Linked DNA regions of Homo sapiens. The gene in region 3 interacts genetically with the main gene of each other region. Each region holds a gene or a part of one and is shown on either strand. Other genes may lie near its edges. The genes, in order: ACTL6A, RUVBL1, INTS9, MED23, CHD4, SAP30 and RTF1.

Region 1 (4,100 bases), on a different chromosome or scaffold from region 3:
TTCGAGACCAGCCTGGCCAACATGGTGAAACCCTGTCTCTACTAAAAATGCAAAAATTAGTTGGGTACGGTGGCGGGCACCTGTAATCCCAGCTACTCGGGAGCCTGAGGGAGGAGAATTGCTTGACCCCAGGAGGCGGAGGTTGCAGTGAGCTGAGATTGTGCCATTGCACTCCAGTGTGGGGGACAGAACGAGACTCCATCTCAAAAAAAAGAAAAAAGAAGGTCATTAGTGACTTATGTCAGTAGTTTTAATGGAATGTTTAGGTGGAAGCCAAATTGAAGACAGATGCTCTTCTTTGAATTTTTAACATGTCTTTTAGTCTTTTTCCAAATAGATTGTAAGTTTTTTTGAGTGTCGGGTCTAGACCATACAATTCTTTCTTTTTTTTTTTTTTTTATAAATCCAGCAGTAGTATCATCAGAAGGCCATACAATTCTTCTGTACTTCCTATTATCATTCTGATCACATTCTGGGCCTCTAATAAGTATTTATTGAATTGAATAACATTTACTTCATATTTTAGGTCTGTTAGATTAATTACATTTGGGACAGGTCTGGGGGCTGGAGGGACCAAAAAGAAGTTCTATATATCTAGAAGGCAAAGGTAATCTCTATATAAAGTAATGTGGTATGAAGTTGATCTGTAAAATCAGTAGGTTCTGTATACTAAAGTATTAATTGTTAAGTCATAGAAACAATTTCTCAAAAGATGCTATATTCATCTTCAACTATGCATTATTTCCAAGTTACTAATCTTATATTCTAGTTGAAGACTGGGATAGTTTCCAAGCTATTTTGGATCATACCTACAAAATGCATGTCAAATCAGAAGCCAGTCTCCATCCTGTTCTCATGTCAGAGGCACCGGTGAGATAAAGATTTTCTTTTTCACGTTTCTCTAGTTGTTTTTTTTTTTTCTTTTTTTTTTCCTTTAGTTTTCTACTCATTTGATGAACATTTTTCTTTAAAGAGGCATAGAAATTCATATTTTGAATTTGAAAATTAGGGAAAAGGATTAATTTTTTAACACTATTATAACTTTTATTTTACTATTCCAATAAATAAAATATCCAGAGAACAACAAAACACCCTAATGGATTCTTGTGGTTATTTATGTATTTCTAGGGATTTGTTTAACATTTTATTTCCTAGGACTGCTTCCCATTTTGAATTATGAATCATTTCTTGTGCCCCAAGGGCAGCGTATATCTACTTTTATTCAAGTTTCCAAGAAAGAATTGAGATGTTGAACAAGGGCTGGAAATTTCTGGACCAAAGTCTCTTGTGAAATACATTTGGTACATAGACAAAAAGGTCCCAGAAAGCAAGCATAATGGTCATAAATTATCAGTATCTTATTGTTACTAACTTACAGTATTCTTTTATGAATACCAACTATAAGTGGGAGAATTTGGTGGTCTAAAATTCATACTTAGGATTTGGATTACCATATTTACTCTTTAGATTTAATAATATGTTTATAAGAATCCTGGTTTCCTCATATGTGGAAAAGTCAGGAGCAATTTTATTATTAAAGAATTTTAATTCTTCTCTGATAGATTTATTAAATTTAATCTACATCTAAAGAAATAAATATTATAGAGGTTTTTTTATTTTTATGAGATATTATGAAAGATGATTTCCCATGGTATTTTATTCTGTTCTTAATGTTTTATATCTTTGTTAATATAGTGCTAGATTTTATCTGGAGATAAATCAACTTTTTAATTCTTAATAACTTGCATTTCTTTTTCCCCTCTTCTCAAGTGGAATACTAGAGCAAAGAGAGAGAAACTGACAGAGTTAATGTTTGAACACTACAACATCCCTGCCTTCTTCCTTTGCAAAACTGCAGTTTTGACAGCGTATCCTTGAAAGAGTAATACCTTTCCTCTTGAAGTATGTACGATACTAATGAATATGATAACTCTGGGAGAAGACATACGCCAATTATTGCTTGTTCCGAAGTTGTTTTTTTCCCTTTTCTCTTGCTTTTTAGCTATTCATCTTTTAGTATTTCTTGTTAGAACTGATGATACACCAGAAGGTATGAGGGAAATAAAATAACACTCAAATTCTGAGTGTTAAGACGTTTTTGTTTTTGTTTTTAAGAAGGGGCATGTGGATAGAAGGCAATGTTTTAACCAGTTGGCTTAGGTGAATTGAAAGATTGCCATTTTAAAATCTCCTTCCCTTCCAATATCATAGAAAACTGGAAATTGGCTGTAAATTCATTCTCCTTCAAATTTAGTCAGTCATCAAATCCTGCCTGTTCTTCCCTGCTATTTGCTTCTCTCTGTCCTACTGCCACAGCATTAGGTGGAAGCTATTTCCAGGATTACTGAAGCACGTCCTCTTGTCTGCCCATTCTTTACGCTGTTGCTCTAATAATCTTTCTATTTTTATTTATTTATTTATTTGGTAGAGATGGAGTTTCGCCATGTTGCCCAGGCTGCTCTCGAACTCCTGGACTCAAGCGATATGCTTGCCTCAGTCTCCCAAAGTGCTGGGATTACAGGCATGAGCCACCGTGCCCAGCCTCTAATAATCTTTCTAAAGTGCTAGTCTGCTTTAAGCCAGAATCGTCTTCTACATTTCTTCCTTTATTTTACTTTCAGACCGTGCTGAGGTACTTGCAGTTCTCTGACCTCGCTGTGTTCTCTTGCTTCTTGGTCTTCCCACATGCTCCTACTCTTGCCCATATTCCCTTCCCCAGATTTTACTATTGAATATCTCAGGAATAGGTTTCCCTTTTACATCACCATCTTCCCTGGGACATCCTGAGCTTTTCTTTTTACAGCTTTATTCATCATCTACTTCACTAAACAGGATAACCTTCAGGGAAAAGGCAGTTTTGGTGCACCATTGTGTGTCTACTGTGTTAAAGGAATTTTAGTGCCAGGTGAGCAGCCTCCCTCCTTCCTCCCTCCCTCCTTATTAAGCACCAGACTTAGTAGACACCTAATAGATGCTCAGTAAATATTTGATGAATGAGTGAATGTCCCTACTCCTAAACATCAGTTTAGTATATTCAGGTAGTATAGGCCATCTGCAGCACAGAACTGTGGAAAATGGGATCTGCCAATATTTACCAACTGTGGAATTCACCTGGAATAGTTTTCCCGCTCATTGAGTTGGAGGAGATAGGAACTGCCATATGGCTGCCAAACTGCTGAAACAGCTCTTTTTCAATGCTATGTGAGAATGGTTATAGTCCCTAGCTCAATTATCACAACCTCCCACTGTTCTTACCAAGTTTCTGTATATTTTGTTAAATAAATGCATCTCAGTTTGTTGTAAGCTCTTTGATCAGTCTCCAGAGACTTTTAGTGATTGTGTTAATTTTGACCAGCTTAATAGTAGCTGTTCCTAGGATAAAGGTTTCCCTGAGTGCCTGATACCTCCATTCTGGAATTCCTGCCTCTTACTATTTGTTTTTAAGCCAGAAATATTATTTTATACCAATTTTTATCCCTAGATTCACTGTAATACATTTTTAACTATAAGGTACATGTTTAAGAAATAGTTTCTGAAACATTATAAGAGCCTGCCCTTTACAATAAACATTATTTTAGCGGCCTTGATACTTTCTTTTCCTTAATGTTTTAAACTAGATTTGCTAATGGTCGTTCTACTGGGCTGATTTTGGACAGTGGAGCCACTCATACCACTGCAATTCCAGTCCACGATGGCTATGTCCTTCAACAAGGTAAATGTATTTAACCAGGATACACTGAGATGATTTTAGATGCCATGAGGATGCACATAATGAAATAAAATGATGAGTAGCACTATTAAAGCATATCAGTTTCTGAATAAGATTTTTTTTAAGTATGTTAAAAATCTTTAGTATATAATGTATATTTAAAACTGATGCATGGCTTTATTTATGTGTTGAAGGATAGTTCAGTTCATTCTACCTGAAAAAGTTATTCACATAAATACACCCACAGAGGAAATTCGTTCAAGGAAGTTTGGACTTACTGCCCTCTTAGCCTTGTTTCATCTGTTTCATAGGCATTGTGAAATCCCCTCTTGCTGGAGACTTTATTACTATGCAGTGCAGAGAACTCTTCCAAGAAATGAATATTGAATTG
Region 2 (4,100 bases), on a different chromosome or scaffold from region 3:
GGAGTGTTCTATGAGCCCTTTACAGGATTTCAGAAAGCCTAACAAAGCTCTTTCTTTCCCCCTGCTTAGCAAAAGCCACAGTGTTTTAGCTTTGAGCTGGTACTGTTGTCTGCTTCTCATACAGATGGATACTTATGCCTTGGCTAGTAAAGTGCAGGAAAGGATGTTATCACTATATGACATTTCTAGGAAATAGTGAATAGTCACTATTAGGGAATAGTTTGTTTTCTGACTTGAAATTTGATCCGTGGGTGTTTTGTTCCTTGGAGCTTTGGTCAAGAGATTACTGAAGACTCATCTTGGACCAACAGGTCCCCTTGGTTGGTGAAATGGCCATCCCCAAACTGACCTCCTGGGAGCCCTTGACCTGAGAAGAGTGCTGGGCTGGGAGTCAGAAGTCAGGAACTGTGTTGCTCCATCACTGACCAGCTTGGTTAATTTGTCACTTTGGGTCTCTGGGTTTTCTGTGGTTTGGGGTTCGGTTTTGAGTTCCCTCCTACTTGGCAAGGCAGTTTTGAGGACCAGACAGGAAACATTTGCTGCCTTTAGCTATTCAGCATTTAGTGAGCCCTTCTGTGTCTCAGGGCCTGGTAACCAACAGGTGATCACTAAATGCTGAATAAATGACCAAACACCAGCCTCTTCCTCTTGCTGACTGCACTGTTAGGAGCCCGCAGGAGGATGCAGGTGAGTGGTGAACCTGTTATGGAGTCAGCCATGATCAGCTCCAAGTTAAGTAAGGACTAGGCTGATGCAAGCCTGTGGTCAAATCTAGTGAGAGGAGGCACAGCAATATAATCATGGTATATTTATACTTGCTCTTTATACTTACTCTTATAGTCCATGTGTCCCCAAAGGCACAGGAACATTTGGAGGAAGTCCTGAGTCCGGTTAGGGTCAGATGCGCCCTAGAGGGCATTTGACGTGAACTTTAATGACTGGGAACTTCTAGGAAGGAGAATGGCATTCCTGGCAGATGGAATAGACTCAAAAGCATTGAGTCATAAAAAAGCTTGGGGGTGTCCAGGGCAGGGCTGGTAGTCTTGTGTGGCTAATCAAGGAACAAGGGGTTGGAAAAAGATAGGGCTGGAAAAGGAGGCTGGGCAGGCCCCACGGAGCTTATACTTGCCATGAAAGGATTTTGTTTGATTCTTACAGGTTAGGGGAACCTCTAAAAATTCCTCTGTGTTTAGAAGCTCCTCAGGCTTTGAGGAGGGGTCTCCATACCTCAGGATCCCATGTTGAGTTGATGAGTGGGATGCAGGGGGATGAGGCTTCTGTAGTCACCTTAGAAAGCAGCACTGACTCTAAGTCTTCTCTTATGCAGGGGGGACAAGATATCCTGTCCATGATGGGCCAGCTAATGAAGCCAAAGAAGACAGAAATCACAGGTAGGAGAACCAGTGTGCCCTGTGAGCAAGGGGCAGGGCGGAGGGCCCCACATTCTGAGATGCTCTTGCGGCTCTGTGAGCACAGTCGCCCTGAGGAAATGCCTCAGAACAGTTCTTTCTTCCTCATAGCTTAGAGCTTGACTCTAGCCTAAGTTTCTGGCGGCATTTAGGCAGCCATATAGCACACTGTGTGCTATCTGCCCCACTGCAGTCACAGTTTCTGGCCCCTATGAGGCCCCAGAAATAGGGATTTGTGTCGCCCAGCTCTGCTGGAGCACAGGCTCTGGAGCCTTGGGGCTGTCAGCCCCCTCCCTAGTAGAGCACAGGGCAGCTCCACAGACCAGCTCCACATACTGCCCTGCCCAGTTTGTGGGCACTTCCCAGAGCTCCACAGGGGACACTGCTGCTGCTCCCCTGTGAACCTTTATTTAACCTGCTGCTCTTCCCAGCTTTCCTGTTGCTGTTTTTTTTCTAATTCCACCTACAGTTTCGTCACCTTAAGATGTTAGTTAAACATTAAAGCAAATATTGTCTTTAAAGTTTAAGCCAGGGCAGCAATCTGAGACCTTTCTGTTCGAGTTGTCAGAAGCAGTTTCTTTCTTTTCACACGGTTTTCGGTGTGCATCCTCTTTGGACAATCCCCGCCTCTTGCCTTTGGTGGAAGACGCTGCCTCAGATCTTCCAGTTTTCTATTTGTGAGCTGCTCCCTCCTGATGATAACACAGGAGCTGGTTTGGAAAATGAGCACTGAGACCTTAGCTGGGTTATGTAACTTTTGAGAGACTCATCCCTCTAGGAGCTCTGAGATTGGGCCTTTCTTCAGAGCCTTTCATTCCTCAAAGGTTTCTGCTCAGGATTCTAAAAGCACCCACTTCCTTAGTCCAGGCACTTGATTGAAAGTTAATTAACCTAAGCATTGTTGTATGGGACCAAAAGAAAGGGTCATTTACTGAGTATAGAACAGGTAAATTTGCATGTGAAAACTCATTTCACCCAGGGCTCCCAAACTCCAATGTCTCCCAGATCAGACAGAGCTAGATTGGGTATGTGGGAAGTGATAAGGCATGGTAGGGAGTGTGACAGCAGTGAGCGTGTGCTGTGAAGGGATTCCCATGCAGAACACCTGTGCAACCTTTTTACATTTAACCAAACTCATCTTTTGGGGGAGGCTGCCAATTTTGTGACCTTTTAGGTGTGATTATCACTGTGTTCAGATGACGACACTGAAACCTGGAGTGGGGACACACCCTGTCTGGGATCACATAGCTAGTAGGAAAACTAGGCTCCTAGCATGGGTTTGGATTGAATTCAGGTGGAGGAGAAAAGGCGATAGTCTCCCCCAGCCCTGTGCTGACCTTGCCTGCCCATCCTTGCATCTCCTAGACAAACTTCGAGGGGAGATTAATAAGGTGGTGAACAAGTACATCGACCAGGGCATTGCTGAGCTGGTCCCGGGTGTGCTGTTTGTTGATGAGGTCCACATGCTGGACATTGAGTGCTTCACCTACCTGCACCGCGCCCTGGAGTCTTCTATCGCTCCCATCGTCATCTTTGCATCCAACCGAGGCAACTGTGTCATCAGGTAGGATGGCTGCCTGCCAGCCACAAGGCTTTTTTAACTTCCATCTGGGCTCATTTGTTCCTCAGGATCTCTCCAAACCCCATGAGGTGGGACAGGGATGAGGGGAGGTCATGTTGTTTTTGAGGGAAAATGTGCCAAGTGGCTTGCCTCTGGCCTCATTTCCCTAGTCACCAAAGGCAGCAGCTGTCCTGTCACTCATGAGGAGGGTCTCCCACGTGATCTTTTGGGTGTGATACTACAATTTGGTCGTTCAATTGGAGTGTACAAAGGTGAGATCAGACAGGGCTAGCCTTTGATGACATTATACACATGAACGTCTTCAGTCTTCATCTGCGCTCTGAGAGGTAGGCATTATTGGCGTCATTTTTCAAATAAGGAAACTGGAATCATAACTTGTCCCTCATCGTAAAGACAGGATAAGAACCCAGCTCCTTCTGATAACAAAACCAGCATTTTCTTTCTTTTTTTTTTTGGGGACAGAGTCTCACTGTGTCGCCCAGGCTGGAGTGCAGTGGCGCGATCTCGGCTCACTGCAAGCTCCACCTCCCGGGTTCACACCATTCTCCTGCCTCAGCCTCCCGAGTAGCTGGGACTACAGTTGCCCACCACCACGCCTGGCTAATTTTTTTGTATTTTTAGTAGAGACAGGGTTTCACCGTGTTAGCCAAGATGGTCTTGATCTCCTGACCTCGTGATCTGCCCGCCTCAGCCTCCCAAAGTGCTGGGATTACAGGCATGAACCACCACGCCCGGCCCCAGCATTTTCTTTCTATCCCAGACCTCTGAACCACACTGGTGTCTTTCCATCCTCCCGCTCCACTCTTTCCCATCCCTTTGGCCTGCCTTTGGGAAGGGCAGATGTTGACCCCTGGAAGACAAGTGTTCATACGGTGCTCATCCTGCCAAGATTGGCCCAAAGCTGGGCCAGGAACTTTCCTGCGGTTGCTTTTTCTCCTAAGCACTCTCCACGCTCGTGGTCCTGGAGAACACCCCATCTTCCCATCTCTCAAGCCCAGTGTCAGTATTCCCAGTACCTGGTAGTTTTATTGCTCTTTTGGTTTTCTGTGATCTTGTTTAAACATTAGTGCCTGGTCTCTGCAGTGCTGGGGGCACAAAGGTGGGTGATG
Region 3 (4,100 bases):
CAGACTCCAAAAGAAGTTTGGGCACACTGGTTTTAACAATAAGTTTTTATATTTCTTTTTCCTGTCTGTTGAAAACACATTCAAGTTGCCTCAAGAGGTGAAAGGAAGCCAGAGGTAGCCTCCAACCATCCTCAACGCTGTCTTTCAGGAGAGGCCGCGTCCCTCTCTGTCTCCCTCTCAGAGGAGTGGCCCAAGCGCAGCATGCCACAGCTGTTCAACATGGACAGCATGCTTTGGCTCTTTCCCTGCTAAAACTGAAGCTAAGAGTTCACAGACCTATAAAATACTTAGACTTTGATAGACCAAAACCTGCAAGTATGCTCAAGAGGATATAAATAACCAAGTTTACAATCCTTATTTTTTGGTTCCTGTTATCTCCCCCATCTACCTCTGAATTCAGCAAACTCTTGACACTCACTCATAACTGAGGTCCAGGAAGGAAGAGAAAAGTCACCATCCTATGGTATTTAGGGACAGAGCGGGTGTCAGCATCTCCACTTCCCAGGGCTCTGACCCATGATGTGGCCCAGGGCTCACGCTGCTGAATGCTAGGTAAGGAGCAGTCCTGACTAACAGCTGTTATTTTATTAGTTGAAAAACAAGAAGGCCCTGAAAATCCCCCCTCTTCCCGGTTACTTGGTTAAGGGTCCATGTTCTTTGTTCATTCATACTTGGAGTCTCACTCTGTTGCCCAGGCTGGAGTGCAGTGGTGTGATCTCGGCTCACTGCAACCTCCACCTCCTGGTTCAAGCGATTCTCAGGCTTCAGCCTCACGAGTAGCTGGGATTACAGATGCGTGCCACCACACCTGGCTACTTTTTTTGTATTTTTAGTAGAGATGGGGTTTTGCCATATTGGCTGGGCTGGGTTGGCCAGGCTGGTCTCGAACTCCTGACCTCAAGTGATCCGCCCACCTTGGCCGCCCAAAGTGCTGGGATTATAGGCGTGAGCTACTGCGCGCAGCCTGGTTCATTTATACTTGACATAAATCCAAAAGAAGGCCACCCCTGCACGATCTCCAAGAGCCTCTGTGGAAAGCTCTAGTTTAACCCTAGGAAGGAGAACAGCTCACCTCTGGCATGATCTCGATCTTCTCGTACCGACGTTTGAAGGGCAGGGCGAGAACCTCAGCCCGCCGATAGGACATGGCGGGGGGCTGGCAGTCGATCATGAGGTCCATCCTGTGGGACTGGGCTGGGGGCGGCTGAGTGTACTGCTCAGGACACACCACGTGCAGGGGCTGAGGAACCAATGGGACAGTTGAGAAAGGTGGTGTGAAGTACAGTGGCCCCTGTGGAAGGCCCATTCCTGACCCCGATCCACTCCCCGCCATTACAGGCTCACCACTTCCAGGCCAAGGTGAACTTTCATCCTCTCAAGCCCAATGAACCGTAGACAGGAGAGGGAACGTGAAGGCACTGGGGCAGAAGAAACATCTCGGAAACCCCTAAACTGCCTCAGCTTAATTTATCTTTCTTACTCTTTACATAAGTTTCACGGTAACTTCCATGTGTCTGCTCCCAGCGGTCTCTGGGCTTCCTCGGGGCACGGTCTTTCTCTAACATTCCCACATGCCTGCTATTATAAGCTCTTGGCTGATTACCAAGAGCTGTGGCTTTTCGTGCCGGGCTGGCGCTGTGGGTTTGGAGTTTCCGCTGGATCTGCAGGTCAGCTGGTATTAGGCAGTGGGCACTCCTCAGCTCATGTGCTCACCATGTGCAACCAAGGAGCAGAGGCAGAGTTTTTTTTTTTTGTTTTTTTTTTTAAACAAAATGTCTCTTTTTGTTATCTTGAGAAAAAAAGATTAGTAAACCAATTTTTACTTTGCACAAATATCACCCAAATGAAAAGGAATGCTGGCAGCCCACAGGGGCACTGTGTTGTCCCTGCTTCTACTTAAGAGCTTGGACCAAGCCCTGAATTCCCTGCTGAAGACGGCTTTCCACCAGGCTGACCGGGCTGAGCTTCCAAAAGCACTTGTTCCTTAGGGCTAATACTTTTCTCCTCCAAACTGCCCTTTGCTCCTCCTCTTGACCTGTCTCAAAGCATCTCATGCCACAGGTGCAGTCTGATGGCTTCTCCCAGGTTTTCCTCACCTAAAGTGGAGACCAGGTGGCCTCCAGTTTCCAGGATTAGCACCTGACAGAGGGGCGTCAAGAGCTGGTTTAGGGACTGGGATTTGAAGTTAATAATGAAAAGCAACACGCCTTTCACTGCTGCTTCTAACGTGGATGAGCATACATTGGGGTAGCGAATCACTGTAGACAGGCCCCACGTTTGCTGTCTGCTCTCATCATACCTAGAGAGTGCCAGTATTCTTTCTTCATTGGGCAAGCACATTAATAATCACCAGAATCCGCTCTTGGGGCCCTCCTGGGGTTCTCCGGCTTTCTCTGTTTCCTGTTCCCCTGCCTTAGAGTTTTGTGAAAGGGCCTCTCTCATCCTGAGGTTGAAGGTGCTGTGCTGGGCCCCTCCACCCTCATCTCACTCCTGGGAACACCAGGGAGTGGAAAGGGAGAGCTCTTCCTCGCCGGTGTCAGCTGTCCTCCTTGCCAATTCCAGTTCCTCTCCCGACTCTCAAGAGCCAGAAACCCAGCGAGCAGTGGCTGAGCCAGCACAGTGGTTCCGTGGCCCTGCCTTCCTGCTACGCGCGCCTCCTGGTCTACACTGCACCCCAGCTACTTCTTCCCTTTCTCCAGGGCAGAAAATGTGAAGTGAAACAAATGACCAAAAACTGCCACAAAACCCAAACCCGACAGCACTGTTTGTGGTACCAGCCTACACGTGCGACACGGCCCCAGTAACGCGTTTCATTTAAACTGTCTCAGCTTAGTGAGTATGTTTCTAGAATGACTTTTTTTTTTTTTGGCAGGGGTGAGAGGGTTTGCTTTTAAGCGGACACAGATGGTTTTCTTTCCCTTCCACATCTGATTTCTTTAGAATGGAAACTGCGGTCAGGGTGTAAAGACCACTCCTTTTCAGTGTGGAGGGGGGCTGGCATGTGTCCCAGCATTCTGCAGATGCGTGAGAACTGAAGACAAGAATCAAACACAGCTAGATCTCTCTCCCCTCACCCCACACAAGCATGAGCCACACCAAGGTGACATGACTACGTGAAGGCACAAGCAGTGTCCTTCATTACCTGCACTTCTTTAAGCAGCTTTGACACCTGGATGAAGTTCAGCCGGGTGTCGATGGGGCAGTAGATGCATTTCATGGCCAGCGGCTGGTAAGGAGCCAGGGCTTCCAGGTAGGAGAAGTCTGGTTCTAGGGAAAGTACAAGAAAGAAATCTTACAATGCAGACTACACAGGAGCTGCCAAGCCAGACAGCAACTGGGGCGCTGAGGGCCCACAGACAGTCAGGGGGTCAGGAGGGAGCCAGGAAGCACACGTGGGGGACGGAGGTCAAAGGGGCCCCGTGGAAGGAGGGGCAGGCTGGGATGGACCCTGTGGGTGGGCTCCAAGCTTCAGCAGAGGCAGATGAGGTAAATGAGGGAGAAATACATATGTGGGGGAGAAAAGAAAGCTCTTTTTACAACGAAATGCCAAGAAACAAACGATGAAATAAAAACCAAAACCACCGTTTGGCAACCATTACAGTTCATCACTTATTCAGATGAAAATCATCAACAAATGCTAAAAATATCAGATACCATTTTGAGGGAGAACAGAATATGTATATAGTTTCAAAGAGTCCCCCACAAGGTACTGATTTAATACAATGGGAAAAACTGACTTCACAGTGGAGAGGCCTGGTACAGACCCGGGAACCTAGAATCAGCTCTGAGTTAACGCCCAGGTGTGAGATGCACCCGGAAGACAAGCGCACGGCCCCGCCTCCAGGCCCGTGAATGGTCTGTAGACTGAGACTGGGATGCTCCCCAGCAGCCCCAGCCCCTCAGACCGGGAAGAGTCCTCGCCCTCTGCTCAGCCTGTCTCCTGAGGGCTGCTGCAGCCTGCTTGGCAGGGAACATTCCCCCAACTCGAGGGAGCTGCCTGCCTTGAGCCAAAAGACCTCGCTCGGTCCTAACTGATGTGACACTTTGATTCCCAGCACAGTCTGTGCCCAGCGACGAGGGACCCTGGCTTAGGCACACCA
Region 4 (4,100 bases), on a different chromosome or scaffold from region 3:
CTTTCTTAGTTCCATTTGGTAGCTCTTGCTTTAAGGTTCTACTCCTGGGTCCTTTCCTTGTTTGCGACATTTTGTTAGAAGTGACTGACTTCATCCATTCTCATGATTTTAATTAGCTCCTCTGCACTGTAAGATCTCAAATGTACTTCTCCATCCTTAACCTCTTCTCAACCTTCATGATGGGCGTTTCCTCTGCATCTCCAATTCAATACATCCCACCCTAAATTCATTACTGGCAAACTAAGTCCTCTAAAATTGCTCTTGGATCCTGTTAAACTAGTTTCACTACTAATGGTTGTGACCTGCAGTTTCAATAACACTGGTAAAGAAACTTAAATAGATACTTCAGAATTTAATCATGTCACAGGAAACCCAGATTATATTTTACCTCTATCATACAACGAGTTCTCTCTTGCTGAAATCTTTGTAAAAATGGTCCAACAAGATGGTATACATAAAGCAACTGGAATTCGGTCTTCACTATAGGAAGAAGTACTTCAGTAAGAAACCTAAAATTTGAAGATAAAAATCTCCTGTGACTTGAAATTATTTAAATTGTTTGAATTTTGTTCATACAGTATATACAAAGTATTACAATAAAATATAATTTTTTAAAGTTCCTTTTAATTTGGTAACAATAATATTTCTAATTAATCTCACATCTCTCACTGGCTATTACTTTCACTTGATTATTTTTATTTATTTATTTTTTTGAGACGGAGTCTCACACTGTTGCCTGGGCTGGAGTGCAGTGGCGTGATCTTGGCTCACTGCAACCTCCGCCTCCTGGGTTCAAGTGATTCTCCTGCTGACTAGCTGGGATTACAGGTGCACACCACCACGCCTGGCTAATTCTTTTATTTTTAGTAGAGACGGGGTTTCACCATGTTGGCCAGGATGGTCTCAATCTCCTGACCTTGTGATCCACCCATCTCGGCCTCCCAAATTGCTGGGATTACAGGCATGAGTCACCGCGCCCAGCCGCAAGTTGTTCTAATGAATGAAGTATATACCTCATCTGTTAATGAGATTAGAACAAAATGAAATACAATTTTTTTTTTTTTTTCAGATGGAGTCTCACTCTGTCACCAGGCTGGAGTGCAGTGGCGCGATCTTGGTTCACTGCAATTTCCAGCTCCCTGGTTCAAGTGATTCTCCTGCCTTAGCCTCCCGAGTAGCTGGGGTTACAGGCACACACCACATGCCCAGCTAATTTTTGTATTTTTAGTAGAGATGGGGTTTCACAATGTTGGCCAGGATGGTCTCAATCGCCTGACCTTGTGATCTGCCCACCTCGGCCTCCCAAAGTGCTGGGATTACAGGCATGAACCACCGCACCCAGCCTACGTCAAATTTCTTTAAGAAATTATTATACTTACTTTGGAATGAGAGAAAGTTGTCCGATGCTAGAATGGTGCCACACAGCATGTGCAAGAGCTAACGTATAGCTACAACTCATCTCAGAGTAGGACTGATGACAGGCAGTGAAATCAAAGAGGCGGAATGGATAGCCAACCCACTCTGTTTCAGACGTCAAGCTGGGGCTGCTGATGACACTCACAATTCGATCATGAAGAACAATCCAATATGGCTCCTTTAAAATCGGAGGAAAGCTAGTGAAAAATATCACTTATCCAGCATTCCACCCCAAAGTCTAAAGTAATAGTGTTTTCTCATTCTTTAAAGTTTTCTATTTTTCCAGCTTCTGCACAATACAGCTGGGTGGCTTTGTAACTGGTCAAATTAAGTCAGTAACAACCTGGGAGAAGTAACTGTGAGTTAAGGGGCTCCATACATGTATCTGTCCAGCTCATTTAGGTACCTGATATACACTATGCAGTAAATCAATTAATTTATCAAACAATAAATCTATAGCTTTATTACTTATTTAAAAATAATAAACTTTAAAAAAATATGTGTGGAGGTCAGAGAAAGGAGTCTTCATGTGAGCTGGAAAAGTCAGGGAAGGCTTCATTCACTGAGAAAGGAGGCTCTAAGCTAGCAAAGAATGAATAGGCTTTAGAGAAGGTGATGGAAAGAAGAAGCTTCTGGAATAAGAAAAATGTCTTATTCCCTCACATTCAGAAGTACCTAAAACATGTCTTAAGCACTATCTGAAGGAACAAAGGCTGTAGATATACAACACGTTAAGTGGCCAAGAGTAGATCAAGCTATTATGTAAAAACTAAAGTTGGATAGGTAAGGTGGTACCAGAAAATGCAGAGACCCGTAAGTCACATAGATATATTTAGATCTAATACAGAAAAGCAAAAACTAGTCACTGTAGATTTTTAAAGCAGTAATAATATGAAAAAACTTTAAAAACATAAAATACTTCATTAATTTGCATGACGTCCCGTACAAGGGCATCCTATATGCATCTTTTTCTTTTTGCTGACATGGAACAGCTGGCTGTATTTCATCACTAAGTACAAATCACAATTATTAACTCACTGGTAGGGCAGTGATGATCAAACCAATTGCATTCATCCATGCTGTAATGTTCTCTCTTGGCACTAAAGGCTGACTGCAACCGGCAAAAAAGAATGTAAGTATGAATTTATAAAAACATTTTAGATGGCTGACAACGGATCTTATTTTTAAAGAATATGTCTAATTCAGAGGATCGACAACTAATCCATTTCAATAAAACAATGGGGAATTTTTTATTGAATAAAAATGTAATATGCATAAAAACTCAAGAAGGCTTTTTAAAAATACTTCCTCCCCAATCATTATCCCATACTTCATGCTAATTTTTAAAAGAATCTTGAAATCTTGAAAACAAGATGAAGAGAATCTTGTTTTAAGTGACAAGTTAACATTATTCCTATATTAAATGTCAAACTGCTATTAATGAGTAGAAGTAGGAACAAACCCGGATCTTAGGATCCTGTCCAGGGCTCATTCCATAACTCCTATATCACAAAGACAAGATCTGGAACCAGAAAACAGTCATCATCCAATGTGCATCAGCCTTGCGGCAACAGGTTTGTCTTAAAAGTTTGAAATAGAATACCATTCTATTTACAAATAAACAACAAATCTTACTGCATGAACCAGAATACATACCTTTTTAGGACAACATTTAGAAGGGCATTCCCAACTTCTTTGCCTGAAACTGCCAAGGCCATGAGCTCCACACAAGTAACATGGAGAGCATGGGCAGCTGGGTTGGGAAACTCATTGAATCTCCAGTCACAGTTTGGAAAGGGACCAGGAGATTTGCCAGCCATCGGTGCACACAGTTAAAGCAATAACAATTGGACTATCTCATCTGATTGTCAATTTATCTGATTATGAGCTGCCAAGAAGTGATTTGTCTACGCTTAGAGAGATTAAGAGGCAAATGCAAACCAAATACAAATGAGTTTGACATGATTGAAATGTATTAAAAGCAACCATTTGATTAACCACAGGTATAAATGGTTGGTCTTTCAGGTGGGTTCTTATAAATATGACATATAATAGCCACAGATGCAACCAAGGTTTACCTAGGTTTCATGAGCCTATTTCTTTTAATAGTTATAAGACATTAATATGAAAATTATTTTCTAATGAGTCATTCTTTTGCTTCAGAAAATAAATTCCTTTGTGTAGGAAAATAAGTCATGCTCATTTATGTAGAATTTCTTACCTAGTAAAATAGTGGTATGGTTATAGACATTAAGTATAGAGTGCTAATAACTGAAAATATAAAATCAAAATGAAGAAATAAACATCCAAGTATATTTTCACTAAAATATACCTTTTCAATAAAGAAAAATATATTTTATCATTTATTATTTACTACAAACATTAATTTTTTTAAAGTAACAAGATCCTACGTTCTCCAGTAGCACACAGATGCATGTGCTACAAAATATAGTATGTAAGAATAAGATTTTTTCTTTGAAACAAATCTCCATAAAGTCTATTTTTAAATATAATTTTTTTACCGCTTATCCTCAAGTTCTAAAATAAAAATTTTAACAGAATTTCAGCCTAATTGGCATGATGCTGTTAATTTAAGATTTCAAATCTTTACAGAGATGAAAATGGAAGTGATCTTAAAAAAAATTAAAACCTTGAAATACATAAAAAATTACTTTAAAAGAAAA
Region 5 (4,100 bases), on a different chromosome or scaffold from region 3:
GCAGAGCTTGCAGTGAGCCAAGATCACGCCACTGCACTCCAGCCTGGGTGACAAGTCTGTCTCAAAAAAAAACAATAATAATAAAATAAATAAATAAAGATAATAACATGAAGTGTCAGGCGCAGTAGCTCACGCCTGTAATCCTAACACTTTGGGAAGCTGAAGCAGACAGATTGCTTGAGCCCAGGAGTTTGGGACAGCTATGAGCAGTGATCACGACACTGCACTCAAGCCTGGGCAACACAGCTAAAATTTGTCTCAAAATAAATATATAAGGCTGAGCGTGGTGGCTCACGCCTGTTAATCCTAGCACTTAGGGAGGCCAAGGCAGGCAGATCACCTGAGGTCAGGAGTTCAAGACCAGCCTGGCCAGCAGAATGAAAACCCTGTCTCTACTAAAAATACAAAAAATTAGCTGGGCATGGTGGCTTGCGCCTGTAGTCCCAGCTTCTCAGGAGGCTGAGGCAGGATAATCACTTGAATCTGGGAGGCAGAGGTTGCAGTGAGCCGAGATCACGCCACTGCACTCCAGCCTGGGCACAGAGTGAGACTCTGTCTCAAAAACAAAAAACAAACAAAAAAAACCAGTGTCTTCCAAGTCTAAGTTACTGGTGACAGCCATTTTCCCAATCTCTTTAGCAGGACTCTCCCACGGAGACTGCCCGTCTCCCGTGTGCTCAGCTGGTACCTGTGGTTGAGGATTCGGTGGATCATCATCCACTCGGGTTTTATCCCATAGCGATAGAAGCGTTCCTCCATCTCTGCAAATTTAGGGTCCTTGTTCTTTCGCTTTCGGCTTTTCTCTTCATCACCACCAAAGTCCCCAGAAGGTGGCTCATCCATATCATTCTTCCGCTGATAGTTTCGGAACATCACCTGACAGTGCAGCTCCAGCTTTGAGCGGAAAGAGAAAATCAGCCACCAAGAAGCTGTGTTCATTCCTTCTATCCACAAGGCTCTTTTGTCACTATCCTCTTCATCGTAGCCCCTACATCTCCAGACTATCCTAAACTTACCTGCAGTTCAGAAACCCAGGAGCAGTGCCAGTAAGACATGCCTTGCCATTTCACAAAGAACTGCCGCTCTGGCCGCCCCTCCAAGGGCTTTGGGGAGGGCGTGTTGGGATCAGCATCTGGAGGCCGAGGCACTGGTGTGGGAGATGGTGGCTGACCCCACTTCCAGATTAGGATCTTCTGCACTTTGCCCTTCAGAGCTGGACACTGAGAGAAAAAGAGACAACTTAATCTCAAATCATAACCATGGGAGGAGAAGGGACAGCCCACAGTCTCAACTTCATCAAAGGACGATTCAGATCTCATTTCAGACCTGGAGCAGTGGCTCATGCCTGAAATCCCAGCACCTTGGGAGGCCGAGGCGGGCAGATCACGAGGTCAAGAGATCGAGACCATCCTAGCTAACATGGTGAAACCCCGTCTCTACTAAAAATACAAAAATTAGCTGGGCGTGGTGGCATGCGCCTGTAGTCCCAGCTACTTGGGAGTCTGAGGCAGGAGAATCACTTGAACCTGGGAGGCAGAGCTTGCAGTGAGCCAAGATTGCCCCACTGCACTCCAGCCTGGGGGACAGAGCAAGACTCCATCTCAAAAAAATAAAAAAAGATCTCATTTCAAATAAAATCTAATCCCAGGACTCCTCCAGGGAGAAAATACAGGTTGAGGACCCCTCATGTGAAATGCTTGGGACCAGAAGTATTTTGGATTTCACATTTTTGGATTAGGGTGCTCAACCTGTAATAGAATTCCCTCTCCATTTCTGGACATCGTCCAGGATTTGCGTGCCACCATCACTCCTATCTGCTTAACAGAGCCAGTAGTTAGACTTTAACAATAAGCCAGAACAATCAGGAAATCAACAGACTTAGAGCACAGAATTCCTCCCTTAAGCAATCTAAAGCAGTAAGTGGCCCTATTAAACATTCTAAACTGGCTGGCATGGTGGTAAACACCTGTAATGCCAGCACTTAATGAGGACAAGGGAGCAGAATGGTTTCAGACCAGGAATTCAAGACCAGCCTGGGCAACATAGTGAGACCCTGTCTCAACAGAGATTTTTTTTTTTTAATTAGCTGGATGTGGTGGCATGCACCAGTACTCCTAGCTACTCAGCAAGAGGTTGAGATAGGAGGATCACTTGAGCCCAAGAGTTGGAGGCTGCAATGAGCTATGACTGCACCACTGCACTCTAGCCCGGATGACAGAATGAGACCCTGTCTCCAAAAAAAAAAATTTTTTTAACAAAAAAATTGAAAACATTGTAAGCTACCAAGACCCTGAGGCAGGGTGTCAACACAGGGACAAATGTTCTCAGCTAGAAGAACATTGCTTCATCTCCTCTTAAGAGAGCTGGCAAAACATCAACTCCTCAGTTTGAAGTTAGTCCTATATTTTCCCAGGACAAAAGTATCCCAACACTATAGGATGAAGGAGAATACCTTTCTCAGGGCTGAAAAGCTCATAGTTCCTCTCCTGCACCCCAGCCTCACAATAGCCTACATAGAAAAGACTACACTTTCCCATTTTTTGCCCCGGCTGAGATCAGTCACTCACCGTACAACGGGGACAGAGCCATTCACCGTTGGGGATCTCTGGAAGTGGGGGATTCAGGCAGTGGATGTGGTAGGAAGAAGGACAGGTATCACAGCAGAGCAGTTCCCCACCATCCTTGCAGACCCGACAGAATTCCATATGGTGGTCATCCTCCTCTTCGAGGTCTCCCCCAACCTCTTCCAGGATCTCCTCACCCTCCGAATTGTCCTCTTTAGCTTCCCACTGGATGCCTTCCTTCTCCTGCAGTAAAGGACCACAGATTCAGATTATTACCCCCACCCGCCCACCGCAGTCTGAAGCCAGTGCCCATCATTCCTTTGAATGCTTCCCAAAGCTCACAACCCGCAGCACCAGCATTTCCATTTCCATCCAGGCCCCGAAGAGCTTTACTGTCCCACCCTTCTTCTCATGGGTTCCAAGGGGCCACAATGGCCAGACACTCACGCAGTGTGGGCAGCTCCACTTGCCCTCGGGAGCCTTCTCCATGTCGGGATCCAGGCAGACCATGTGGTAAGCACGGGGACAGGTATCACACAGGATGATCTCACCGCCTTGCTGGCACACCTCGCAATAGTCCTGGTGGTCTGTCTCATAACCATCCACAGCAGTCACCTCCTCCTCGCCTGGGCAAGGAAGAGGGAAAGCCCAGTTATTGGAAAAAAACTACCTCCCCCCACCCCCCGACCCCTATCTCCTTAGGGAGATTCTTCCCCAATCACTCCCACCTCATCCCATCACAAATATACAGAAGAGAAACACACCTTTCTTTTTCTTTTTAGTGGTTCGGAGTTTCTTGCGGCTGCGGCTACTACGGCTGGTGGAACCATCAGAAACAGAATAGCTATTGATACTGGCATCATCGAAGTCAGATTCCACATCTAAGTCATCATCCTCACTCTGGCAGGATGAAAAAGAATAAGGTTAGACGTTCAAGCCAAGGGGAAGGACAGAGTGGCAGAGAGGGGAGTACTCTCTCACTGGGGACACCAGAATCCCAGCAAGCACCGTTATACAGGGAGCCTAGTCTCATCTTGTTCTGTGGGAAACGCCCCACATTCTTACGTGCCTACTATGAAGGACAGGTTCTGATAGAAGGTCACATCCTTTCTATTAGACATGGCACCCTCCCTAAAGCGATGGGCTGGGCTCTCACCGAGGATCTCTTACGCTTGGAACCAAAACCTCCCAGCTTGATTTTCAGGGGAGCTACTTTCTTGGGTTTAGGCTTCTTGGCATCAGGTACACGAGGGCTGCCCTTGGGCTTCCTCCGAGCATTGGGACCTAAAATCAGGATATATCCAAATATATACCACAAGACCAAAGATGGGGAAAATAAAATCTTCTCCACCTAAGCTTGCTTCCCCACATTCAGATTCCCAAATTTCCCTCCAAAATCCAAGACTCATTCCTCCCTCCTATCTCCTACCTTAGGGCTGACAGACCAGCATTCCCATGCTGTCTTTGACATCTTAAGCCCACACTAGACACCCCCACTCCCATTTGAACCCCATTTCACCTTTGCCCTCCTTGGTC
Region 6 (4,679 bases), on a different chromosome or scaffold from region 3:
TAATCATAAGCAGTGTGTAAAACTTTTCTGTTTCAGGCAAGGCATCTTTACATATGTGATTATCATAAAAACTTAATTCAGAGTGTTCGAAACAGAAGAAAGAGAAAAGGGAGTGATGATGATGGAGGTGATTCACCTGTTCAAGATATTGATACCCCAGAGGTAGATGGAAGTTTTTTATGCTTAATGTAAATCCTAAGTAGTGCATTCTGAAGCCTTTATAAAAAGATATGAACAATCTTTTAAGTGTTTAAAACATTTGAGAAATCTGAAAATGAAAGCAAAATTAAATATAGCCAGTTGACATGCATTTACACAGTTTGAATTGTTACATTTTAGATTGACAATTTTTGCAGCTCTGTTGTCACATAACTTACTCTTTTTTTGACCTCAGTTTATATTATTTATCCCCAAAAGATTAAATTCTTTAATAATTTATGTTGGATTATATAAATTTTTTAAATTTTTTTTGATTTTGGAAGTAAATTTTATTGTGCTGAAGTTAAAATGTTTGTTATTATACATATCAATGATAAATTTTCAACAAATTGTATGAACTCATTTATACATGTTAATTTTTTCTAGGTTGATTTATACCAATTACAAGTAAATACACTTAGGAGATACAAAAGACACTTCAAGCTACCAACCAGACCAGGACTTAATAAAGCACAACTTGTTGAGGTATATATGAGTTTTAAACTATTTGAACTATCTGCACAACCGAGAGGTTATTAAGTGCTAATGGAAGTTTTAATGTAGTGTATGTAACAGTACATTTTAATTAGAAAGAACAAAGTTAAAAAATCTGTTGTGGAAGAATCTAGTTGTGTAGAAATGTTTGTCTGCCACTTAGGAAATTCCTTTTTGTAATGACTGCTTAGTAGATTGTGTACAGCACCTTCTGATACTGGCTTTCAAAATGTGTTGATTGTTTTTTGAGACAGAATCTCACTCTGTCACCCAGGCTGGAGTGCAGTGGCATGATCTTGGCTCATTGAAACCTCTACCTACCAGGTTCAAGCAATTCTCCAGCCTCAGCCTCCCAAGTACCTGGGACTTCAGGTGTGCACCACCACACCAGGCTAATTTTTGTATAATATTTTTAGTAGAGATAGGGTTTCACCATGTTGGCCAGACTTGTTTCAAACTCCTGACTTCAAGTGATCTGCCCACCTCAGCCTACCAGAGTGCTGGGATTACCAGTGTGAGCCACCGTGCCTGGCCCTCAAAATGTTGAATGAGAGTTTTTTTAATCCTCACTTTAGAAATCTATTAATTTTAAAACTCCGTTTAACCAGTAAACATTTGAGCACCTAATTGAGGCATAATAAAATTAATTAACAAGCTTTAATGTCCTTATTAGAATTTATATTTTAAAGTGGTGGAATAGGCCTACAAATCAGACCCTAAACAGTATTTTTATAATTTGCTGACTTAACTATTTCAAAATTTGTCCTTGTTGATGTTTGTTTTATTAGAGACATCCATGTTTTTTTCACATCTAGAAGAGGCAAAAGCTTTTCTTTTACCCAAGCTTTTACTTGTAGTTTGCTTTGATAGAGGACTTCTAGTCAGTCACTGAGTTGTGAAAAGTTAACGGAGCATGCATATGTTTTCAGGATATAATAGAACCAAGAAATCTGTGCATCTTATTAAGATGTTTATAGATTTATATATATATATTTTAATCATATTTAAAATAAAAATTTTTACTTGCAGCTACTGAGGAGGATTGATTAAGCCTAGGAGTTTGAGTCACCATGGGCAACATAGCAACACTCCATCTCTAAAAAAAGAAAATTTGGCCTACTAGACAAAATAGAAGTGTAGAAATATAAATCAGTTTTCTCATATTCTTTGCATGGATTTAGTAGTTACCCAACATTTTCTAAAATGTGCCTATTGAATAAAATGAAATATGAATAGAAGTTACATTTATTTGGCAGAATGCTTTTTAACATTGTTAAAATCTAATATATTAACTATTTAGCTAAAATTTTTTATCCTTGGTTGGGCAACACAGATCTAATTAATTTTTCTTTAATTTTGATTTAAAAGATCAAGTTCTTTTGGGGTTGTACAATACATTAATGTAACATAAATATAGTTATTGCCCACCATGATGAAATATTTCAATAGGTACTAATGGAGTGAAGGCACCCCTGTTTTGGGACAAATGAGAACCAAAGAACTGATTATTTTAAATGTTATATTTAGGTATAAATTAAACCTGTAATTTTTGATAAACTGACCTTCTAAGAACAGTTATATTATTTCCAGAGCTATTTTCTTTTTTATACATAAGAGATAGCCATGAGTGTTATATTTTACTTAATCAGAAATGCAGATATTAGCAAGTTAAGGAATGTGCAGATGTAGTACATATATTTTAAGAGAGGGGTCCCCAACCCCAGGGCCATGGACTGGTACTGGTTGGTGGCCTGTTAGGAACGGGTCCGCAGAGCAGGAGGTGAGCACCAGCTAGCAAGCATTACTGCCTGAGCTCCGCCTCCTGTCAGATCAGCCACAGAATTAGATTCTCAGAGGAGTCCAAACCCTCTTGTGAAGTGCACATGTGAGGGATCTAGATTGTATGCTTGTTATAAGAATCTAATGCCTGATGATCTGAGGTGGAACAATTTCATACCAAAACCAACTCCGCCACCCTCAATCTGTGCAAAAATTGCCTTCCGTGAAATCTATCTCTGGTGCCAAAAAGGTTGGGGACCACTGTTTTAAGGGAATCCAGGGTTGTATGACTAAGTCTTAAGTCTCTTAATTATTGTGTGGATGAACTTTTTTCTTAAGAAATTTTATTTTCTGGAATCTAAATATGCATGTCAGCACCCCAGGTAAGTCTATTATTCTTCTATTAGTAATTGTAGTATGCATGTTATGTTAGCACAATGAAAAAGCAAGGAAGCAGGTAAACATCCTTCATTGAACATCCCTCTTTCTCCTCTCATTTCCATTCATAATTTTTATTCAGAAAAATTTTCAAGGAACCTTAACCAAAGAATGCTACCAAGGTGTGAATGAATGAATATAATTTGCAGCAAACAATTTATATGTTATTGTTGGTTTCTCTACTAGCAAAAGTTTTCAACTTCATACTTCTTTTTCTATCAGTAGAGTCTAAACCATTGCAGGTTTAATGATGCATGTGATCTCTTACGTCTGTTTTATCTCATTTAAAGTTTAAAAGTAAAATCATTTATTCCCTATTCTAGATTCTAATTATAAAATTTATTATTTTTATTTTATTTATTTATCTTTTTTTGAGACAGAGTCTTGCTCTGTTGCCCAGGCTGAAGTCCAGTGGCATGATCTCAGCTCACTGCAACCTCCACCTTCTGGGTTCAAGCAATCCTCCTGTCTAAGCCTTCTGAGTAGCTAGGATTACAGGTGTACACCACCAGGCCTATCTAATTTTTGTATTTTTTTTGGTAGAGATGGGGTTTCGTCATGTTGCTCAGGCTGGTCTCAAACTCCTGGGCTCAAGTGATCCACCCACCTCTGCCTCCCAAAGTGCTGGGATTACAGGCATGAGCCACCACGCCTGGCCCAATTATAAAATTTAAAATAAATAAAAGGAAAATATATTTTCTAATCAATGTATATTAAATTGAGTGGGTCAAAGGGTCCTTTGAAATCACACTATCTCTTGTTCGTAACATTTTATTCTTGAATGCTTTCTGTCTTGTTGATATTTTGTTAAATATAATTTTTAAAGGAAATAGCCCTTATCACATAGCACTTTTTCTTTTGATGAAACCGTATTTTTTACGTAGTTTATGAAACCTGTTATATCTAAAATTTAATTTCCTTAATTTTTCTTTTCTTTGTAGATAGTTGGTTGCCACTTTAGGTCTATTCCAGTGAATGAAAAAGACACCTTAACATATTTCATCTACTCAGTGAAGAATGACAAGAACAAATCAGATCTCAAGGTTGATAGTGGTGTTCACTAGGAGACGTGGAATTGAGACTAATAACTTGGATGTTAACACTGTTTACTGTTTTTTCACATGTAGAAATGTTCTTTGTGTATTTTTTCTACAGAGGATTTTCTCTGATTTTATTTTCTTTGTTTCTGACTCTAATAATTAGTTGGAAACTCATATAAAATGAGCTTTCCTAAATTAAATCTATTTTAAATAAAGGTTATTACTATTATAGTTGCTTCAGTGTATTTATTTTGTGAAACTTGATTTTTCTTTTAAACTGACTAAGAGATCAGTATTGAGATTTTAATGTAAAGTCCTTCATTTTGTAATCCTTTTTTTTTTTTTTTTTTAAACTTCCAAGAAATTAACAGGGTAAGGAGAAGTAACAAATGTAGCACATTTGCATTCTCTGGGACAATCTGACTTGGAAGTGAAGATAATCTAAATAGCATTATTTTTTAAAGTGCTTTATAGGGCTAGCAAATTTGAAAAATAAACTTCTCTTGGAATGCAACTTCTTTTTTATTTCCTTTTTTTTGTTATTATTACTTGATGAAGTACTAGGAAGAACAAATGGTTTAATTTATATACCCACCTCCTTCCAAAGAAGACTTAATGTGCCAGCAAAGATAAACACAATGCTGAAAGTTGAAATAAGAGTATAAAATTAAATAGCTGTTTTTCAAAATTTTGTCTTCGAGAAAAGATATTTATGTGGCATGAATATAG
Region 7 (4,100 bases), on a different chromosome or scaffold from region 3:
GGCAGATGGACACTGGCCTTTTTGCTTCTTGGAAGGAACTGAAAAAATGCATAAAAACAACCTTGGGTGCTGCACCCTTCAACACTGAAACCACACTGTGGAGGGAGGAGGGGCCCAATGAGGGAATTCCCCAGCACAAGAAATAGTGTGAACCACCAAGAAATCCTAGTTGGTAGGACAAAGCCAGTGTCTTAATGCCTGACCAAGATCTTGGTTCAGAGGCACTGCCTCAGCTGAGATTGGAGACAAGTCCTTAGTCTTGGTCCCAATCACTACAGAGGCTACTCGGGTGGAAAGATACCCTTCGGTCTTCTTTGGTTGGCTTTTCTCCCTGCTGTGTGCATTGGCATCTCGTGGGGGTTTCAGCGGCTACATGTGGGGAGGTGGTGGCAAAGTGGCTACAGTGTGATGCAGTTTTAATAAAAATTTTATTACACAGCCATAATGTAATCAACACTTCTCCAAATCCAAATGATACTAAATACAGATCTACATGGTGGATCAGAATGACTCCAGCGAATTATCTGGATTCTATAATTTTATGTTTTTTAAAACCAGAAATCAAAAAAAAAAGTCCAAGTTCATCATGATAGGAGAGGTCCCAGCAGCTCCAGGACTCTGCTGAAGTCCAGGCAATGTTAACAGTCTGTGATTCCACATTTACACAATAGTCTATAAAGAGTTTCGGTCAATGGACTATTCAAGTATATATGATTTTAACGAGTCCATCACCACTCCTTTGCCCAAGTGAACTGTGTCACAGCTACCACAAAGCTGTGTTACAGTCATATTTAGCAATTTTACAATCATAATACTCCTTTAAAACCATCCATTGCTGCTTTAAAAATAAAAAAAAAGTAAACTAAGTTAAAGCGACACTGAGGCTCTACTAAACCCAGAAGTTACCAAGTTCATTTTTATGTTTAAATACAACTTACAAGTCCATGATTTCCCATCGTCCCCCTTCCTTGTACGAAAGCAGGGTGAGGAAGTACAAAGCAGAGCTTTTAGATTAGTCTCTCGTGGAGATCGGAGCTCTCAGCTGTTCCTTTAGCTTAGCTCTTGGTATATATAGTCAGCTGTACTTTGTTCTGAAAGATTTGTTAAATGCCACTTTTATTTACACTTGGAGCTTTACACCTGAGAGTGATTATCAAGCAGTCAGTTTATCTCTTTTCAAACATTTCATAAAGACATACACACACCTCTGCTGGCTTCGCCCTAGCTGCACAATATATATGCTGACCATATATATGTATACACACACACAAAACTGCACATGCTTGAAACATTTGCAACCTAAATCTTTTTGAGGCGGAGTCTCACTCTGTCACCCAGACTGGAGTGCAGTGGCACGATCTTGGCTCACCACAACCTCCGCCTCCCAGGTTCAAGGGATTCTCCTGTCTCAGCCCCCCGAGTAGCTGGGATTACAGGCACGCACCACCATGCCCGGCTAAGTTTTGTAGTTTTAGTAGAGATGGGGTTTCACCGTGTTAGTCAGATTGGTCTTGAACTCCTGACCTCAGGTGATCCACCCGCCTAGGCCTCCCAAAGTGCTGGGATTACAGGCGTGAGCTACTGCACCCGGCGTAACCTAAATCTTTTTGTGTTTGCTCTCCACATTCATATTCAGAAATTTCTCTTAAAAACAAAATGTAGTTCTTGCCAAAGCAGCAAAACAGAATCACCAGGAAGAGGCTGGTATACTGGGTGAGAAAAAGAAGTTCTACGTTCAGCCAAGAAGCTGTGGGCTGTACCCATGGGAAGAGCAAGACATTCACTGCCCTCCCTGGTACCTGGCCATGGGCTTCCCTCCCACACCTGCCAGGACACAGCCTGCAGGTCAGGGGGCTAAACTGGGGAGTTTTCTCCAAAGTTGGGAAAGGATGGGAAGAGTAGGTGGGAATGGGGAAGTTACACAGCTACAGCAGTCAGGCCTGTTTAGTAAGAAGAATCACATTTAATGAGTTTCTTTCTTGCAGTTTCAGATGCTCAAGTACAGCTGAAAAAAATCTGAAACAGCTATAGACCCATGACAGACTGATACAAAGAGTACTGCATTTTAAAAAAATGATAAAAAAATCCACACACTTACACACACACACATACACACTCTCGCTCTCAAATTAGACCCCCCCCCCCCACAAATGTACACTTTTTGGAAACTAAACTGGTTTTGAAACCCCTTCTTCCAAAAAGAAGGGCAGAAGAGAAAGATGAAGAGAGGAAAGAGGATCGCAGGTGCCCAATCCCCGCTCCCCCCACAAGGTCACGTGCCGAATGTTCAATGGGTGGGCCAAGGCAGTCTGTAGAGGAGACCGCCTGGTGCTGCTGCTATTGCCCCAGGGGCTCCAGCAAGATTCCCAGCTCCATGGTAATACTGAATGCGTGCAGAGTGGCCAATGAACTGCGCGGTTAAAAAAACAAAAGGCAAACACAAATCTAAAGACATGGATAAAGCCCAAGAGAGCCCAGGCCCACACTGGGTGGGGCCCTGGGGGAGGGGAGGCTGGTGGGAGATGGTGTGCAGACAAAGGAGGTCTATACAGCAAATGGTTTATATTACAGATGACTGGCAGTTTAGAGTCTCTTCCCAGTTCAACAGCTGCTCCAGCCCAAAGAGGCTAAATCAAAGGAAAGGAGGAAAGGTGGGACGCTGCGATGGGGCATGCAGGGTCAGAAGCAGCAGGCTGGGTGTGCTCAAATAAGCCCTCGTCGTTTTTTGTAGTCTTCCAAGTTCAGAGATCTCCTTGGAGCCCCATCCTTGGCTGGCGGAGCCTTGGAGGTGATGGCTAAAGCCTTTGACTCTGTGGGAAAGAAGAGCAAGTTGGCAGCTGAGGTCCCACAAAGTCCTCTTAGTCCTGTGCTACACTCCTGCAGGCAGCCTCCTGACTGTGGCCCTGTTCCCTCTCACCATACCCACAGCCTGTCTTGGCCTGGCCTGTGGATGCTGATGAGCCAGCATTCCCCTTTCTTCCCTAAAAGTGGGCTTCCTTGTTGCCCCAGAAAACCATGGATCCATCTGGTTCTCAGCCCTCACCACCCGCCCCACCCTCACATACCTGAGCTGGGAACTTGTAAGTCAATCTTCACATCAAAATCGTGTACTTTGAACAGATCTTCTGAGAGGTCACTGGCTGACTTAGAATTCAAATCTTTATCTTTGCCTTGACCCTGGAATGTGAAGAGGAAAGCTAATGGTAAGAGCATAAATGCAAGTGGATTTCAAGCAGCAGCAGCCACTAACGGTACGAAGCTCTTATTTGAGTTCATTAGATTTTCCTACTAAGGCCCCTTTCTGATTCCTTCTCTCAGAGGGAGGCCACAGACAAAGAGCTTTCTCTCCTGAAGGCTACAAGCACAGAGAAGAGGGCAGGCTTGTGTCTGTGGTATGAGTGTAGAAAGGGTGGGCTTAAGCAACGGGTCACTTCCTGACCTAAGATTTCAGAAATCCTGAGACCAGTTAGACTACAACAGGAAAAGACTTAACTTGGACAGAAAACTGCTTTTTTTTTTTTTTTTTGAGGTGGGAGTCTCACTCTTGTCACCTAGGCTGGAGTACAACGGTGCAATCTTGGCTCACTGCAACCTCCCCCTCCCAGGTTCACGCGATTTTCCTGCCTCAGCCTCCTCAGTAGCTGGAGTTATCGGAACCCGCCACCATGCCCAGCTATTTTTTTTCTATTTTTAGTAGAGACGGGGTTCTACCATGTTGGCCAGGCTGGTCTCGAACTCCTGACCTCAGGTGATCCGCCCACCTCCGCCTCCCAAAGTGCTGGGATTACAGGCATGAGCCACTGCGCCCAGCAAGAAAACTGCTTTTAAATGTGCCATTTTCAACAAGCTTTCACTTTTACAATGTCTGATCTTTGTATGTTATCTCTCCTCCTGTGAAGCTGGCAGGGTATACAGTAGTACCCTCATTTTACACAGCAGAAAAGGGGATGCTGAGGGCTGGAAGCCAGCTGCTGAAGGACATAGTCAAGGCCCTAGGCAAGTAGTGGTGTCAGGTTTGGAATTAAGGTTGTCTGTTGATTATATCTGTAAATAACTGGGATGGAGAAGGGACTCCAAGAGGGACTCCCTGTTCCTCAAGG

Evidence for each region.
Region 1: changes in INTS9 (region 3) and ACTL6A together harm fitness less than expected from each alone (positive genetic interaction), as found in Homo sapiens cells (one large-scale study listed by BioGRID).
Region 2: changes in INTS9 (region 3) and RUVBL1 together harm fitness less than expected from each alone (positive genetic interaction), as found in Homo sapiens cells (one large-scale study listed by BioGRID).
Region 4: changes in INTS9 (region 3) and MED23 together harm fitness more than expected from each alone (negative genetic interaction), as found in Homo sapiens cells (one large-scale study listed by BioGRID).
Region 5: changes in INTS9 (region 3) and CHD4 together harm fitness less than expected from each alone (positive genetic interaction), as found in Homo sapiens cells (one large-scale study listed by BioGRID).
Region 6: changes in INTS9 (region 3) and SAP30 together harm fitness more than expected from each alone (negative genetic interaction), as found in Homo sapiens cells (one large-scale study listed by BioGRID).
Region 7: changes in INTS9 (region 3) and RTF1 together harm fitness less than expected from each alone (positive genetic interaction), as found in Homo sapiens cells (one large-scale study listed by BioGRID).

Annotation. Positions count from the first base shown.
Region 1 is NC_000003.12:179,572,600-179,576,699, forward strand, and holds part of ACTL6A (actin-like protein 6A), read left to right. Parts: intron 1-769; coding exon 770-870; intron 871-1,770; coding exon 1,771-1,868; intron 1,869-3,617; coding exon 3,618-3,712; intron 3,713-4,020; coding exon 4,021-4,100.
Region 2 is NC_000003.12:128,096,173-128,100,272, reverse strand, and holds part of RUVBL1 (ruvB-like 1), read left to right. Parts: intron 1-1,327; coding exon 1,328-1,391; intron 1,392-2,774; coding exon 2,775-2,973; intron 2,974-4,100. UniProt on the Homo sapiens protein: Possesses single-stranded DNA-stimulated ATPase and ATP-dependent DNA helicase (3' to 5') activity; hexamerization is thought to be critical for ATP hydrolysis and adjacent subunits in the ring-like structure contribute to the ATPase activity.
Region 3 is NC_000008.11:28,774,687-28,778,786, forward strand, and holds part of INTS9 (integrator complex subunit 9), read right to left. Parts: intron 3,268-4,100; coding exon 3,143-3,267; intron 1,241-3,142; coding exon 1,073-1,240; intron 1-1,072. UniProt on the Homo sapiens protein: Component of the integrator complex, a multiprotein complex that terminates RNA polymerase II (Pol II) transcription in the promoter-proximal region of genes.
Region 4 is NC_000006.12:131,589,934-131,594,033, forward strand, and holds part of MED23 (mediator of RNA polymerase II transcription subunit 23), read right to left. Parts: intron 3,239-4,100; coding exon 3,073-3,238; intron 2,528-3,072; coding exon 2,455-2,527; intron 1,595-2,454; coding exon 1,380-1,594; intron 510-1,379; coding exon 389-509; intron 1-388. UniProt on the Homo sapiens protein: Required for transcriptional activation subsequent to the assembly of the pre-initiation complex. Component of the Mediator complex, a coactivator involved in the regulated transcription of nearly all RNA polymerase II-dependent genes.
Region 5 is NC_000012.12:6,597,206-6,601,305, forward strand, and holds part of CHD4 (chromodomain-helicase-DNA-binding protein 4), read right to left. Parts: coding exon 4,084-4,100; intron 3,849-4,083; coding exon 3,721-3,848; intron 3,465-3,720; coding exon 3,329-3,464; intron 3,191-3,328; coding exon 3,012-3,190; intron 2,808-3,011; coding exon 2,568-2,807; intron 1,221-2,567; coding exon 1,017-1,220; intron 895-1,016; coding exon 689-894; intron 1-688. UniProt on the Homo sapiens protein: ATP-dependent chromatin-remodeling factor that binds and distorts nucleosomal DNA. Acts as a component of the histone deacetylase NuRD complex which participates in the remodeling of chromatin.
Region 6 is NC_000004.12:173,373,354-173,378,032, forward strand, and holds the end of SAP30 (histone deacetylase complex subunit SAP30), read left to right. Parts: intron 1-36; coding exon 37-162; intron 163-585; coding exon 586-684; intron 685-3,851; coding exon 3,852-3,974; 3' UTR 3,975-4,179; downstream 4,180-4,679. UniProt on the Homo sapiens protein: Involved in the functional recruitment of the Sin3-histone deacetylase complex (HDAC) to a specific subset of N-CoR corepressor complexes. Capable of transcription repression by N-CoR.
Region 7 is NC_000015.10:41,479,291-41,483,390, reverse strand, and holds part of RTF1 (RNA polymerase-associated protein RTF1 homolog), read right to left. Parts: intron 3,965-4,100; exon of another isoform or gene 3,900-3,964; intron 3,178-3,899; coding exon 3,066-3,177; intron 2,811-3,065; coding exon 2,704-2,810; 3' UTR 1-2,703. UniProt on the Homo sapiens protein: Component of the PAF1 complex (PAF1C) which has multiple functions during transcription by RNA polymerase II and is implicated in regulation of development and maintenance of embryonic stem cell pluripotency.